Linked DNA regions of Homo sapiens. The protein of the gene in region 3 interacts with the protein of the main gene of each other region in a pairwise test. Each region holds a gene or a part of one and is shown on either strand. Other genes may lie near its edges.

Region 1 (3,913 bases), about 24 Mb from region 3:
GGTGAGTGAGCAATGAGAGCTGAGGCGAGATAGGTGGGCACTTTGAGACCAGATTCTAGAGGATTCTAGAGTTTCAGGGGGCCCATGGGCATGGCTACTTCTAGTCTATATTGTAACTTTCGGGGGGAAAAAGCCATTCCCTCCTAACAGAGGAATCAAAAGAAAGGCACTTCCTGCCAGGCAGGGAAGCCCCATGGGCATGAGCATAGCTTGATTTCAGCCCCCTCGGCTGTGTCCCTGGCTATGGACATAATGAAGGTACCAAGAGCATTTCAAAATAAGAGACAACAGGACTTGATGGCAAGTTAGACCTAGGGCAAAGGGAAGGGAAAAAATGAAGGTAACTAAGATTGTGTTCCCCACACCCCGGGGATGAGGGAGAGAAGGAAGGGGCAACAGAGACAGTCTGACCATCTCTGGTTGGGAGCGAGTCTGGCTGTAGACTTGCTGTCTCAGAGGTGCTGGTGGACACCCCTAGGGTGGCTATCTCCTGGGTGTCAGAGATTGTGGCCCCAGATGGTTCCACTGCGGCCAAAAGGGAGATCAGAGCTCTGATTTTCCCAGAGGGCAGATGTGGGTGGAGAAGGTCTGTGCTGAACAAGAGTAGCCATGATTTGGAGACGGTGGCCCAGGCAGGTAGCACGGATTCAGCCTGAGTGCTCATCTGGGCCCTCCCACTGACCTGCTGTGTAACCCTGAGCCAGTTTTCTCCTATCTCTCAATTTCCATTTTCACTGAAATAAGGGGATGATCTTAAAGGGCACGGCCAGTTTTGACCTTCTTTTCTTAATTTTTTATTTACTTATTTTTTTTTTGAGACAGGGTCTTGCTCTGTTGCCCAGGCTCGAGTGCAGTGGCTCAATCACGGCTCACTGCAGCCTCAACCTCCTGGGCTCAAGTGATCCTCCCACCTCAGCTTCTGAGCAGCTGGGACTACAGGCACATGCTACCATGTCTGGCTAATTTTTAAATTTTATGTAGAAACAGGGTTTCCTTATCTTGCCCAGGCTCAGCTTTGACCTTCTGATGATCTAGAGGGAATGAGGAGAAATAAAGGAGGAGGCATAGTCTGGGTCTGAGACCCAATAAAAGCAGGGAACAGGAAGGACCCTAGGAGACAGAGAATTGTGGAGAAGGCAGCACAGAGCAGGGAGGAGAAAAGGGGTATAAGGTGAGAGCCACACAGACACTGTGACACACACAGAGAGACGTGTGCACTCTGACAGATTTGCAGCCTCAGACATTGACATGCTCCCACACACAGACCCAGCCCCTCATGCTGACTCTCAGGCACATCCTACGGAAGACAGCTGGAGAGGCTGTGCCTCCCCCCATCAGACATCTCTGCCTGACTTCTCCAGCTTCCTTGACTATACCCTGAGCCTTGAGAGTCCTTTGGATTTGGGAGAGGGGTGAGGCCTGCCTCCTTTTGCCTATGGGTGTTCCAGAGGCATCCTTGCTCTGGCCTCAGTGTAGCCATTTTCCGCCCAGCCTCAGGTTCCTGAAGATGGCATGCTCCCCCTCCCTGGCTTTTCCTGAGGGCATACAATTCCTCATCCTCTGGGAGTGGGGAAGGATGTTGCTACCTGCACTGCTCCTTGGTCTTCCTTATGGCCCAGTGGAGGAATCTGAGGCCCAGAGAGGATCTGTAACTAGCCTGAGGTCAGCCCAGCAAAGGGGAGTGGGAAGGAATGGACCAACCTCAGATTTGCTATTTAGTGTTTTCCCAGTTGTAAGAATTAGAAGCCCACTGGCAGACATCGGGCTATGGGAGTGGAATTCCTTCTGCCAGCCCAAGGGCTTCCTTTTCCAGAGTATCTTGAGGACAGGCTACCTGGGGTGGGAGCCTGACCCTCTTCCAAAGAGACTCTAGGCAGGTCAGAGGCACCTCCCAAGCCATGTCCTGGGAAACCCAGACTCTGCAGGGACATTCCTCCCAGGGAGGTCAGAGAGGAGGGTCCACTCTGCCTTCAAGGTCTGGCCACACTTCCTGAGGAGGGCCTGTACCTCTTCAAACACTTCCCCTGGCACAGCCCACTTACGGGCTCACATTCCCACTGGGGAATAACTCTTGATCCTTCCCAAACCTGCTTCTCAGCAACAACACTTCTATCCACTGAGGCTCAAATCTGAGCCTCTGCCTCAACTCCTCTGTTCCTCTTACTCCCACATCCAATCAACTGCAAAGTCCTGCCAGTGCCCTTCTTAACGTCTCAGCCCATCCACGTCTCTCCACGACCCTTACTCTGGCAGCATTGTCTCTCACCTGAACCGTGTAGCAGGCCCCTCCCTGCTCTACCTACCTGCCCCCACCAAAGGTCATCTTGCATGCTGTGGCCAAAGGAAAAATTCTTTTTTTTCTTTTTTGAGACAGGGCCTTTCTTTATCGCCCAGGCTGTAGTACAGTGGTGCCATCTCAGCTCACTGCAACCCCTGCCTCCCAGGCTCAAGTGATCCTCCCATCTTAGCCTCCCAAGTATCTGGGACTACAGGCATGCACCACCACACTCAGTGAATTTTTTTTTTTTTTTTTTTTTGAGACGGAGTCTCACTCTGTCGCCCAGGCTGGAGTGCAGTGGAGCGATCTCGGCTCACCGCAAGCTCCGCCTCTGGGGTTGATGCCATTCTCCTGCCTCAGCCTCCCAAGTAGCTGGGACTACTGGCGCCCGCCACCATGCCTGGCTAATTTTTTGTATTTTTAGTAGAGATGGGGTTTCACTGTGTTAGCCAGGATGGTCTTGATCTCCTGACCTCGTGATCCACCTGCCTCAGCCTCTCAAAGTGCTGGGATTACAGGCGTGAGCCACTGCGCCCGGCCAATATATTTTTTTTTTTTTTGAGGTGGAGTCTCACTGTGTCACCCAGGTTGGAGTGCAGTGGCGCGATCTCAGCTCACTGCATGCTCTCCCTCCTGGGTTGACGCCATTCTCCTGCCTCAGCCTCCCGAGTAGCTGGGACTACAGGCGCCTGCCACGACGCCCAGCTAATTTTTTTGTATTTGTAGTAGAGACAGGGTTTCACCGTGTTAGCCAGGATGGTCTTGATCACCTGACTTCGTGATCCACCCACCTTGGCCTCCCAAAGTGCTGGGATTACAGGTGTGAGCCACCGTGCCCGGCCGCGCCCAGCCAAATTTTTAAATTTTTTGTAGAGACTAGGTGTCACTGTATTGCCTAGGCTGGTCTCAAACTCCTGGCCTCAAGCTGTCCTCTCATCTCAGCCTCCCAAGGTACTGGGATTATAGGCATGAAATACGGTGCCCAGCCTGGAAAAATTTTAAAACACATACCTTTTCTTGGGTCCCCAGTGACTCGTTCAAGACTGGGTATATCATAAGCATTCTGTAAATATTGTGGAATGAATGCAATCTTCCCAGCCCTTGTTTTAAAAAATCCCAGGAGCGTCTGTTCCCTCCAATTTCTTGGCATGGATTGGAGGCCCTTTGTAACCAACCATCTGCCTCTTTGACCCAGTTACAAGTTATTGAAGGTTGGCTCATGTCTGCTTCATCTCCATCACTGGCACAGGGCCTAGCACACAGTCAGTCTCAATAAATGCTCAGGGAATGAATGGATTAATGAAAAGCCAAATGTCAGTAGAGGATTTCTATTTGTATAGAGGAAAGAGGGAGAGAAGCTCCCTGCTGGGGTGGCCCAAGAAAGCCTTGAGGAAGAAATTGGGAGACAGTGCCAAGGGGACACACAAGGAACCTACCTTGGGTCCCTTCTCAGGACAGAAGCCTGCCAAGGAGGGTGGGGGCTGACTTCAGAAAGCCCTAAATGGCAAGGAGAGGAGTCAAGGCCTTAGTCTGTGGGCAGGGGAGCCATGAAAGGTGTGAGCAGGAGGGGAGAGGATGAAGACTGTGGCGTGCTGCACGGTCAGTGAGGAGGAGAGCTGAGACCTGGAAGGCGGG
Region 2 (3,913 bases), on a different chromosome or scaffold from region 3:
GACCAGGTCAAGGCCAGGCGAGAATGGCTCATGCCTATAATCCCAGCACTTTGGGAGGCCGAGGAGGGCGGATCACGAGGTCAGCAGATTGAGACCATCCTGGCTAAGACAGTGAAACCCTGTCTCTACTAAAAATACAAAAAAAAAAATTAGCCAGGCATGGTGGTGGGCGCCTGTAGTCCCAGCTACTCAGGAAGCTGAGGCAGGAGAATGGCGTGAACCCAGGAGGCGGAGCTGGCAGTGAGCCGAGATCGCGCCACTGCACTCCAGCCTGGGCGACAGAGCAAGACTCCGTCTCAAAAACAAACAAACAAAAAAAATCCCAGCACTTTGGGAGGCTGAGGCAGGAGGATGGTTTGAGCCCAGGAGTTTCAGACCAGCCTGGTAATATAGGGAGACCCCACCTCTACAGAAATAGAAAAATATTAGCCAGGTATGGTGGTACATGCCTGTGGTCTCAGCTACTTGGAAGACTGAGGTGGGAGGGACTGCTGGGGCATGGGAGGTGAAGGCTGCAGTGAGCTGTTAGATCGCGTACTCCATCCTGGGCAACAGAGAGACTCCATCTCAAAAAAAACAAACTGCCAGGTGCGGTGGCTCATGCCTATAATCCCAGCACTTTGGGAGGCCAAGGCAGGTGGATTGCATGATGTCAGGAGTTGGACACCAGCCTGGCCAACATGGAGAAACCCCGTCTCTACTAGAAATACAAAAAATTGGCTGGTAGCGGTGGTTCACACCTATAATCCCAGAACTTTGGGAGGCTGAGACAGGAGGATCACGAGGTCAGGAGATCGAGACTATCCTGGCAAACACAGTGAAACCCTGTCTCTACTAAAAATACAAAAAATTAGCCAGGCATCATGGTGGGTGCCTGTAGTCCCAGCTACTTGGGAGGCTGAGGTAGGAGAATGGCATGAACCTGGGAGGCGGAGCTTGCAGTGAGCTGAGATGGCGCCACTGCACTCCAGCCTGGGCGACGGAGCAAGACTCTGTCAAAAAAAAAAAAAAAAAAAAAAAAAAAAAAAAAAAAACAACACACACACACACACAAAATTAGCTGGGCAGAGTGGCGGGCACCTGTAATCCCAGCTACTCAGGAGGCTGAGGCAGGAGAATCACTTGAACCCCGGAGGCGGAGGCTCCAGCGAGCCGAGATTGTGCCATCGCACTCTAGCCTGGACAACAAGAGCAAAACTCCATCTTAAAAAAAAAAAAAAAACCAACCAAACCATCCAACCAACCAGAAAAAAATCATTTCCTAAACTGGGCTGCCATAAACTAATCTAACTTGGCTCAAAGTCTCCGTAATGGAAACACCAGAGTAAGGCAAAGAGACCCCTCCCAAGTCCCTGCTCAGATGAACCTGGAAGTAAGTATCCCTGTTAAATGACGAAAATTAATCTCAGTTCCAAGGAAAACTCCAGGGGTTTCTATTACCTCTTGGCCCTAACACTTTACATCAAGGCTGCAGCAGACTGAGTTAGAGCTATTAATATTTTAAGCAAAGTCCAAAGAATCAACAGGCAGGCCGGGTGCGGTGGCTCACACCTGTAATCCCAGCACTTTGGGAGGCCAAGGCAGGCGGATCACTTGAGGTCACGAGTTCGAGACCAGCCTGGCCAACATAGTGAAACCTTGCCTCTACTAAAAATACAAAAATTAGCCGGGCATGGTGGTACATGCCCGTAGTCCCAGCTACTCGGGAAGCTAAGCCAGGAGAATTGCTTGAACCTGGGTGGTGGGTGCACTCGCCACTGCACTCCAGCCTGGACAACAGAGCAACACTCCATCTCAAAAACCAACCAACCAACCAACCAACCCAGAAAAACCAGAGAGGGTGTGAAGTACTAACTTTTCCTGAGCTGAAATAGGTCCCATACCCTTTTCCAGTCGAAAAAGCAGTTGCCACTGATTATGAGACAGACAGCTGTTTTAAAGTGGTAACAAGTGAAAAGAAAAAAAAAGGATGACTTATCAAAACCCAATTCATATATAAAACCCTCCAGATATGGCTTGGATATACTGTTGCATCAGAGTATCAAATGGGACTTCATACATCTGATGACACTCGGAAATGAGGCCTTTCAGGAATAAGCCACTAAGTTTAACTTAGCTACTGCAAAGGTGGTCTACCAAGGGTAAATTGCCAAGCGGCTCCGATTACTCACTGTGCATTTTAAAAGTAATTTCACGAGTGTTTGTCAGAGCTAATTTCTTACCTCTAGAGCAGATATATCTAGGTTAGAAGTTGATTTCCTAAAATGTCTTCTTTCAAACCAGAATTCAATGTCCTTTCAAGACTGTATACACAAGCCAGTTAAGTGACTGCCTAAAGCAAAGATCTAAAATCTTTTGTTAAGTAATAATTATACTGTTTACCTGCTAACCAGTCATGGGGTATGAGCTCTGCTCATCCTATAGCAGGGTACCCAGTTAAGAATTTTTATTTGCCTATAATATTTAGATTAAGCCTCTATACAATGTAGGGAAGTCATGTCAATTGCTTAAGCCGAGACAGTAATGTTTGATTTCTTGAATATGGTTATGTCCTTTCCAGACAATTAGGTCATACGACCATTTCTTGACTCACATGATGCTCCCTTCCCCTCCTGCCTGTGTGAACTACCATGTTTTTGCCAAAGAGAAAGCGGTTACCCATTTACAGGGTCAATGAAATCAAAGATAAAAGCATCAAAAGTACAATTCAAAAGTACAATTCTATCAGTTATGCTGTTTTGAGTGAAAACACACACACACACACTCTCTCTCTCTCTTCTTCTGGGTTTAAAAACAATAGCCTTCTCCTACCCTAAAAGGTCATTCTGAAACCAGAGAACCTATTCAGTGCCATTCCTCATTTTGACCCTTCGATAGCACCATTTCACTTTTTTTTTTTTTTGAGGTGAAGTCTTCCTCTGTCGCCCAGGCTAGAGTACAATGGTGCCATCTTAGCTCACTGTAACCTCCATCTCCCAGGTTCAAGTAATTCTCCTGCCTCAGCCTCCCCAGTAGCTGGGATTACAGGTGTGCGCCACCACGCCCAGCTAATTTTTCTATTTTTTTTTTTTTGAGACCGAGTCTTGCTATGTCTCCCAGGCTGGAGTGCAGTGGAGCGATCTCAGCTCACTGCAAGCTCCGCCTCTCGGGTTCATGACATTCTCCTGCCTCAGCCTCCCGAGTAGCTGGGACGACAGGCACCCACCACCATGCCCGGCTAATTTTTTGTATTTTTCAGCAGAGCCGGGGTTTCACCGTGTTAGCCAGGATGGTCTCGATCTCCTGACCTTGTGATCCCCCTGCCTCGGCCTCCCAAAGTGCTGGGATTACAGGCGTGAGCCACTGCGCCCCCCCGGTATTTTTGCATTTTTAGTAGAGACGGGGTTTCACCCATGTTGGCCAGGCTGGTTTCAAACTCCTGACCTTATATGATCCGCCCGCCTCGGCCTCCCAAAGAGCTAGAATTACAGGCATGAGAAACCGCGCCCAGCCAATTTCACTGTTAAATGCAGAATATTTCTGTGGTATGTTCTAGCACATCAGTTACTAACAGTGAACATCTGAGAGTATATGAAAGCAACCACTAATAAGGAACTAAACCACAGATTATTTTAAGTGTACACAGTTGCTTTCTTTCCCTCCAACATAAGACTGACGCATTAAGGACACCATGGCCTTACCTTGTAGGTGCAGTGGCTGCTGGCTGCTGCCCATAGGCTGGATAAGCAGGCTGAGTGCCATATGCAGACTGAGCTGCATAGGAGGCCTGGGTGGTGGTGACTGTAGCAGTGGTGGTATCATAAGCACCAGTGCCATACCCCTGGACAGGCTGGCTGTATGCCTGGGGGGCAGTTGGAGTAGTATAACCTAGAACAAAGGAGAGCTGCATCAGATTTCAGGTCCCCTCAGAGAT
Region 3 (3,913 bases):
TGGGTTCAAGGGGTCCGCACCCTGGGGCATGGGGCAGTTCTTGTGGGCACTTGTGAACAGGTCTGGAAATAAGAGCAAGAGGAGGAACTCAGCAAAGCCCAGCCCTCTCTTGCTTACAAAGCATGTTCAAGGCCCCCCCGTAAGGTGAGTATGGCCTTGTTTTTATCCAACAACATCGTAGAGAAAGCAGACTCAAGTCCACAGCAGGGAAGGGGTCCAGCCAGATGCCCTCCTGCCTGTGCCCCTCAGCGGGAATTACTGGCCTCATCTTCTTTTTACTCCCTTTTCTCAGTTTCTAGCACCCACACTCCAGCATGATTTTGGCCTCGTGGAGATCTTTAATCCATTTACCCTCATATTTCCAGACTAGATCCTCCCGTCCTCTTTTGCTCCTGGCCCGGCTGACACCCTGGCATGGCCTCTGAGCTCTCTCTCACAGACGCCCTTACCTCTCACCCCGGTTTGGGTCTGACCCTCCTGCCCTGTGCCTGGATCTGAGGAGCTGAATGTTGCTGGAGAAAGTGACCGCTGCATGCGAGATTGTAGCCCCAGCCTCCCGTGGGACGCTGCCCGGATCCTTCTCTGTTTCTGCATTTCCTGCTGTCTTTGTTTCCTGCCAGGTTGACAGCTTCACCCCATCCTTCCTTCTCAGACATGAAACACACCCCCTCCCCTACCCCACACACTGCTGGGGGCTTCTGCCCCTCCCTCACTGGGTCCAGGATCCTTGGAAAGGTGTCACCTGGATCTTTCCACCCAAATCACCAGAGCCTGCCTGCACCTTTGCCCACATCATCGCCTTTCCCTCCTGCAACAAAGGAAGAGCTGTTCCTGCTGCACCCAAGACCTTCTGGCCCATCCACCCAGGGCTGGGTCCTGCCCCTGCCCTCCCCCCAGAGGCTCTGCTCTCCCTCCTGCGGTGTCACTGTGCCCTCTCCACTCTGTCCACTTTGAAGCATTCAGCCGGGATCTCATATGCTGCGATGTGTCTTGGGCTCTGGACCTTCTCCTGCATTCTCACTCCTCTGTCCCCTTTACCACTGGGTGGGGCCGTCAGCATCCTGGCAACCCAAGCATCTCCTGTCTTCTCAGAAGCTTGTGACCACTGTTTCCTTCCAGCGACTTGGCCGTTCCTCTGCTCCCTTCTCGCTGGACGTGCAGAGAGCTGTGTCCCACATCTACTTCCTCGTCCTCCACTTCTCCTCCACCCATTCCAAGCAGGCTTTCATGAGGCAGCCCTTGCCAAGCTGCCAGGAAAATCCGTGGGGCCAACTCCAATGGGGGCTGCTCCAGCCTCTTCTTGGAGCTGGAGCTGTGCAGCCTTCCTGCCCTCTTGAGCCTCGCTCTTATCCTGGCCTCTGGCCTCTCTGGCTGCTGTCCTGGGTCCCCTCTTTGGCTCCTCCCTGGCTCACCCCTGCCCGTTGGCTGGCACACTTCTGTCCTGGCCCTTCTCCACCCTCTCTCCCCAGGAGGTCTCACCTTCCTGTTTCCGCTGCCCGCTGCCCATGTGCACACCTCCAGCCCTGACTCCTCACTTGAGCTCCCAACTGAGTTTCCAGCTCTCCACATGGATGCCCAAGGGGCACCCCAAGCACACCTGGGCAAAAGAGGATTCCCAATTCCAGGTCCACCTTCCCCCCATCCCCCACTGCACCAACTACAACCCTGGGAGTTTCTCAGGGTCCTGCCTTCCCCCACTCTCCCCGGGGCCACGCAGTCAACCGGCAAATCCTGTTAGCCCTCTCTTAGGTCTATTCCAGGTCTCCCGGCTCCCTTCTCCCAGGGCTCCCCTGCTGCAGGCATCCTCCCTCCCTGGAAGACAATGGTCCCTGCGCTCACTCTCTGCCCGCCAGCGGAGGGACTTAATGCTCTAGGCCAGATTGTGTCACTGGGGTTAGGGGACCATGTGGGTGCTGCCCCCAATTCCCCTGGATTCCTTTCTCCTGTTTTTGCCCTGGCGCCCTGCATGGCTTCTAAGAGGCACCACCTGTGGCTCTTTCTACAGGGGCTGCCCTAGGTAAATTTCTGTTGGCCCCACCCAGAGTGGCCCCAAGCCAATGACTACCAGGTGCAGAACCCCAGCTCTTTTGTCTGGGATCCGAAAATTCCCCTTCACTTACCCTCCGGAGTACCCTGCAGGACCAGGCTGAGGCCAGGCCTGAGACCACCCCACTGCCTGGCTGGCCTCCTCCATCCTCCTCTCGCTCCATTCCCTACTGGCTTCCTCTGGAAGGTTCACCTCATATCAGTTGTACCCAAATCCTCATTTCAGGGGCAGCTGGCAGGGGGAAGGTAAGCATTCAGTTGGAGGTGAGATTAAGGTTTTCTTTTCTTTTTTTTTTGGAGACAGAATCTCGCTCTGTCACCCAGGCTGGAGTACAGTGGCGTGATCTCGACTCACTCTAACCTCCGCCTCCCAGATTCAAGCGATTCTCCTGCCTCAGCCTCCTGAGTAGCTGGGATTATGGGCACCTGCTCATTTTTATATTTCCAGTAGAGACAGGGTTTCACCATGTTGGCCAGGCTGGTCTCAAACACCTGACCTCAGGCGATCCGCCTGCCTCGGCCTTCCAAAGTGCTGGGATTACAGGCATGAGCCACCACGCCCAGCCTGAGATTCAAGTTTTCATCCCAACTGGATTAGACTTAGTTTGCAGAAGAGACCGTAGGTTTCTGGGATCCACCCAAAGGTAAGCAGGTGGGCTAGTCAAGGAGGCTGGAGGCAGAGACTGGAGCCAAGGAAAGATCTTATTGACCACCCCACCCATGACCCAGGCAGGCCTAAGGAGGTGAGAGCACCTGGGGCAGCACGGGATCCTGTGGACTGAGCCGTGCGCCTGCACACCATAGCACTCAGCTCATCTTGTTCTTTTTCCTGAGTCCCTGCTGTGTGACCCTGAGCTAGTCCTGCCCCTCTCTGGGCTCCAAGGCCTCCATTTCCACAAAGGCCATGTTGTCCAGGCCCTTCAAAGGCAATGTTCAAACTGGGGGTGCATATTTCAGTGGGTCATGCAGCCGTTTATTAATTAGGTCTTATTTTAATGAAATAGAATGGAATAGAATGGAAAATATCAGAGCCCACTGCAAGTCAGGTTAAGTATTACTTTATGAAGCTTCTGTTTATGCAAACACAAGTCTGTGCAGATGTGTGTGCACAACACACACAGAGTAAAAATTTTCTCTGTGTGTATTCTGGGTCATGATGCAAAATATATTATTCCTATGGGTCCAGTCAAAAAAGTTTGCAAGTTGCCAATCCTGAGGTTCTGGAAATTCTGCATGTCCTGTACAAGCCAGGGCCCGCCAAGGTGCAGACAGGTGGCTCTGGCCATAGGCTGACCCTAGGAACTTGAGAGGTGTTAGGGTATTTCTAGGACCCCTGGCCATCCCCTGAAGCTTTTTTACAACTCTCCAGCCACAGACCAGGGAGCGAGGTTGATGGGGAGGGGAGCCGGGCACAGAGGAGGCTGGTGGTGATGCCAAAGCCTGGCAGAGGCATGACTTGAACAAGGTCATTTGTTGAGACGGTGGTGGGCTTGGAGGACTCCTGGCTCCCACCCCCTCCCCAGCCCGCCTGGCTCCCCACCTCAGTTGGGGTTCAGGTGCCTCCACCAAAGCTGCCTGCTCCCCCTGAGGACTTTGGCCCCATGATGTCACAGGCTGGTTGCCATGGGGACGTCAGGTAATGAACCAGCCCAGGGTGAAATCACAGGCTGTTCTTCGCCCAGCTGGGACTGGTGGTCACGTCACCACTGGCAACTGGAAAAACACAGAGTGTCATGTGGGGTGGGGGCTGGGAGGCAGCCCGAAGGGACCGCTAGCACCTGCTCCTGTGGCTCCCTCTCCCAGAAGGACACCCCCTTTCTTTCAGTCCACACCCTAGTCTCCTGACCTCAAGGTCAGAATTCCCTTC
Region 4 (3,913 bases), on a different chromosome or scaffold from region 3:
GCTGTGCCACGGTCCTGGGCTGTGTGGGGAGTGGACAGAGGCCCTTCTGAGCTGCCCCCGAGAGCCAGCCCCACCCCGGTCAGCACCCACACAGCCCCAGGTCAGGCAGGACACAAACCCGGCCCACCACAAAGCTCCCTCTGAAACCACGTCCCTGAAAAGTCCTGTACCCAGAATATGCCCAGAACTCCCACAACTCCACCATGAAGAGGAAAGAGCCAATTAAACAAGGGGCCCTTGAACATTTCTCCAGAGAAGAGCCACACACGGCCAATGAGCTCATGCCAGGACGCTGGGCACCGGGGAAACGTGAACCGCAACTGAGCGAGACACGGAGCCGCCTCGCGCCGACGGCCACTGAGAGCAACCACCATGAGCTGCTGGGTCGAGGGGAATCAGACCCTCCGCGTCGCTGGCGGGAGCGTGTGTGGTGCGGCCACTGCAAACAGCCGGCAGCTCCTCAAAGAGCTGGACGCAGAGTCCATGGGCCCAGCACCCGCCCGGGCGCGCAGCCAGGGGGTCTGAGCGCAGTCCACGCACAGACCTCGGCACGGGTGTCCACGGCAACACGATCCCATCACCAACAGATGGAACGCGGAACCAGCCCTCAACCGCCGGAGGGAGACACAAAACCGGGTTTACCCGTCAACACCGCTTCGTACAGCCGAACTCTGATACACGCTGCCACGCGGGCAAACCCCGAAAACACGCCCAGCCAGTCACAGAGACCTGTCGACACAACTCCGTGCCCAGGGGATGTCCTGGAGGGGCACGTCAGGGCTCAGGGCCAGTGGAAATGTGCCACGGTTAGACTGGTCGCGGCTGCGCACTGAATGTGCCGGGAGGAACGGAACGGTAGACTAATGGAGCGCTAGACGTGAGGGTGAGCTGCATGTGTGTGCATCGGAGCTCAGGAAACCGTTTTGGAAAGCGCTCCCTCCGCCCGGCAGCCCTCTGGGAACCCTCCCCAGGAGCCACAGGGCGGCCTGGCTCCATCCAGCTTGGTCCTGGCAGCTCCCCTGTCCACCGGAGCATGCCTGGGCTGGGCCCCGCCCTGATGGTGTCGCCCCTCCCCTCACCACCTTTGGAGCACGTGCTGCCCCAGAGGCCCTGCGACCTGACCTGTTCCTGCACCTCCTGTTTCTCAGGAGCCGTCCCCGTGCCCTCCCCCTGCCCTCCCCCTGTTTCTGCTGCCTTAGTACATTTGGCCTTGTCATAGTTCAACACAAACCATTTTTAAACAAAAACAAGAGAAACCACTCTGACCTTTCGCTGAGAAAATCCTTTCACTTCTGCCTTCTGCTCTTGATTCTGAATTTCTCCCCCTAAATGTCAGAGGGGCTGATTCTCCTGCAGCTGCCGGGCAGGGGTGGGGAGGCAGTGTGGGAAGAAGTCTCCTCAGCCGGCCCTTCGCCCTCCTCCCAACCCAGGGCTGGCAACCTGGCTGGGCCTGACGCACTGTGGTGCAGACTCTGGCCAGGCTGGACCAGAGAATAGCTGTTTTCCAGGCACCCGCCTTCCCCGGCCCTCAGAGGCTGGCAGGCTTTGGGAGCCTGGCCGTTCATTTCTAAAAATATTTTTTTTTAGAGACGAGTCTCACTCTGTCACCCAGGCTGGAGTGCAGTGGCATGATAACGGGTCACTCAGCCTCGAGCTCCCGGACTCAAGTGATCCACCTCAGCCTCCTGAGCAGTTGGAATGACAGGCATGTGCCAGCACACCTGGCTAATTTTTAAATTTTTTTGAGAGATAGATAGACTTTAGCTATTTTGCCCAGGCTGGTCTCAAACTCCTGGCCTGGCTGGTCTCAAACTCCTGGCCTGACGTGATCCTCCTGCCTCAGCTGCCCACGACGTGAGGATTACAGGCGTGAGCTCTGATCATTCTTTATTTGAAACAGGTGCACCCCGCCAGCGTCAGCAAGACAGCTGCTCCCAATGGTAGGCCGGGCAACCCACTCACGGCTCCTACAGCACCTCCTCTCTGCCGGCCTCAGGCGGCTCTGGAAGAATGATGCCCTAATATACCGCGCTGCCCTCCAGGTGGGGGTGGGGGTGGACGGAGACAGGCAGGAGTAACCAGTGCTACTCTCCCAGCTCAAACCCCACACGAAGGCAGACCCAGCGTTTGCAAAACACCAGCCCCCGGTGAACAAGTCGACCTGCTGTGCAGCCCACCTCTGACTCCGTTTCCCCCAGCGTACCCAGCCACATTGGGAGGCTCCACCTCGGTCTAACGCTCCGGCATTAGCAGGACCTGCTGAATGAGTGGCGCCGGGCCCATCCATCTCTGCCATCGCTGCTCAGCCCTCTGCCATGTTCAAATATCACACAGTCCCCAGGTACCTCGTAAATCACTGTAATTACGGGCTGCTCACTTAAAATTAAACTGCAATTTTTTAAAAAGCAAATTGCCAGTAAGACACGTTGGCTGTGGCTGGAAATACTTCTGAGGCTGCCTGCGCGCAGGCTCTGGCTTCCTCTCCCTCTGCCTGGCCGGCCCGAGCTGCCACCTGTCTAGTCTGCGCACATAGCGGCCCTGTGGCTGGCGGGCGCCCTGGGGGAGACTGAGACACTCACTCTTAATGAAGACACTCGCGGCGTCCATTGTGGCCACTGCACTCTAGTCCAGACCCTCGCTGGCCTGGCCTGGGGCTCACCTGCCCCTCTGGAAGCAGAGAGGGCCTGCCCTGGAGGGCCGGGGACCTCTGCAGCATGTCCGTGGAACACGTGGGCCAGGGATTGTGTGCCCGGCCCCCATTCCAGCTCTGCCACGTGAGCAGTGCTCACTCGGTGCCTAGGGCTGACTAGTCTTACTAAGCGCTGGTCCCACCATCCCCTGAGCCGAGCCCCATGGTGTCCCAGCGGGCACGGACAAGAGGCACGGAGTGAGGGAGGGGTGGGGGCTGACAAAGGGCTTGGAGAGCAGAGACAGCGCACACCACCAACTCTCTCCACACACCACTTTCTCCACACACCACCAACCGCAGGATGTGGTGGGGCTCGGAGGCCAAGGGGGAAGTGTGAGGGATTCCTGTCAAGAACAAGACCCCCTGCTGCTGAGGGTCCAAGAGAAACTCCATGAACTGGGAAACTCGAGGGGAGGAAGCTAGAGATGGAATGAAGGAAGCCCTGAATCCTGGCTCAAACAAGGAAAGCTGAAATAATGCAGTAAAATGAGAAGACACGCAGGAAATGGAAACGATGCTACTTCGAGATACTGGGAAGTTATGTGAATGCTGTTCATCTGTGGGGTGGCGTGAAGAGGTGGAGGCCACACCAGTGGACATCAAAACCAGAAACCAGTCAGAGAAAGACAACAGGAAAACTGTAAGTGCCTGGAAATTAAACAGCACACTTCTAAGTAATCCACGAGTCAAATGGGATGCCTCGAAGGAAATAAAAAAGAGAACAGAATGGAAACAAGAATACAGCATAATGAAATTTGCCAGACGCACCCAAGGCAGTGCTTAGAGGGAAACGGACAGCACTCAATGCCTGTATCAGGAAAGGAGAAAGATCTCAAATCGCTTCTCTAAATTCCTACTTCAAGAAACGAAGGGAAAAACAAGCCCGAAGCAGGAGGAGGAAATAATACAAGTAGGAATGAACAGGAAAACAAAAGTTATTAAAACCAAAAACTGCTTCTTTAAAAAATAGCAATAAGGCCGGCCAGGAGCAGGGCTCACACCTGTAATCTTTGCACTTTGGGAGGCCAAGGTGAGAGGATCACTTGAGCCCTGGAGTTTGAGACCAGCCTGGACAACACAGTGAGACCCCATCCCTATAATCAATCAGCCAGGTGTGGTGGCATACACCTGTAGCCCCAGGTATGTGGGATCACGTGGGCCTAGGAGTTTGAGGCTGTAGTGAGCTATGATCACACCACTGCACTCCAGCCTGGGCAACAGAGT

Evidence for each region. The genes of interacting proteins can lie anywhere in the genome.
Region 1: the proteins of FAM131C (region 3) and HPCAL4 interact in binary tests that used the Homo sapiens proteins (3 or more experiments, as listed by UniProt).
Region 2: the proteins of FAM131C (region 3) and EWSR1 interact in a two-hybrid assay, tested with the Homo sapiens proteins (one large-scale study listed by BioGRID and IntAct).
Region 4: the proteins of FAM131C (region 3) and MAD1L1 interact in a two-hybrid assay, tested with the Homo sapiens proteins (one large-scale study listed by BioGRID and IntAct).

Annotation. Positions count from the first base shown.
Region 1 is NC_000001.11:39,684,805-39,688,717, reverse strand, and holds part of HPCAL4 (hippocalcin-like protein 4), read left to right. Parts: intron 1-3,913. UniProt on the Homo sapiens protein: May be involved in the calcium-dependent regulation of rhodopsin phosphorylation.
Region 2 is NC_000022.11:29,277,984-29,281,896, reverse strand, and holds part of EWSR1 (RNA-binding protein EWS), read right to left. Parts: intron 3,868-3,913; coding exon 3,681-3,867; intron 1-3,680. UniProt on the Homo sapiens protein: Binds to ssRNA containing the consensus sequence 5'-AGGUAA-3'. Might normally function as a transcriptional repressor. EWS-fusion-proteins (EFPS) may play a role in the tumorigenic process.
Region 3 is NC_000001.11:16,063,575-16,067,487, forward strand, and holds part of FAM131C (protein FAM131C), read right to left. Parts: intron 63-3,913; coding exon 1-62.
Region 4 is NC_000007.14:1,816,817-1,820,729, forward strand, and holds part of MAD1L1 (mitotic spindle assembly checkpoint protein MAD1), read right to left. Parts: intron 1-3,913. UniProt on the Homo sapiens protein: Component of the spindle-assembly checkpoint that prevents the onset of anaphase until all chromosomes are properly aligned at the metaphase plate.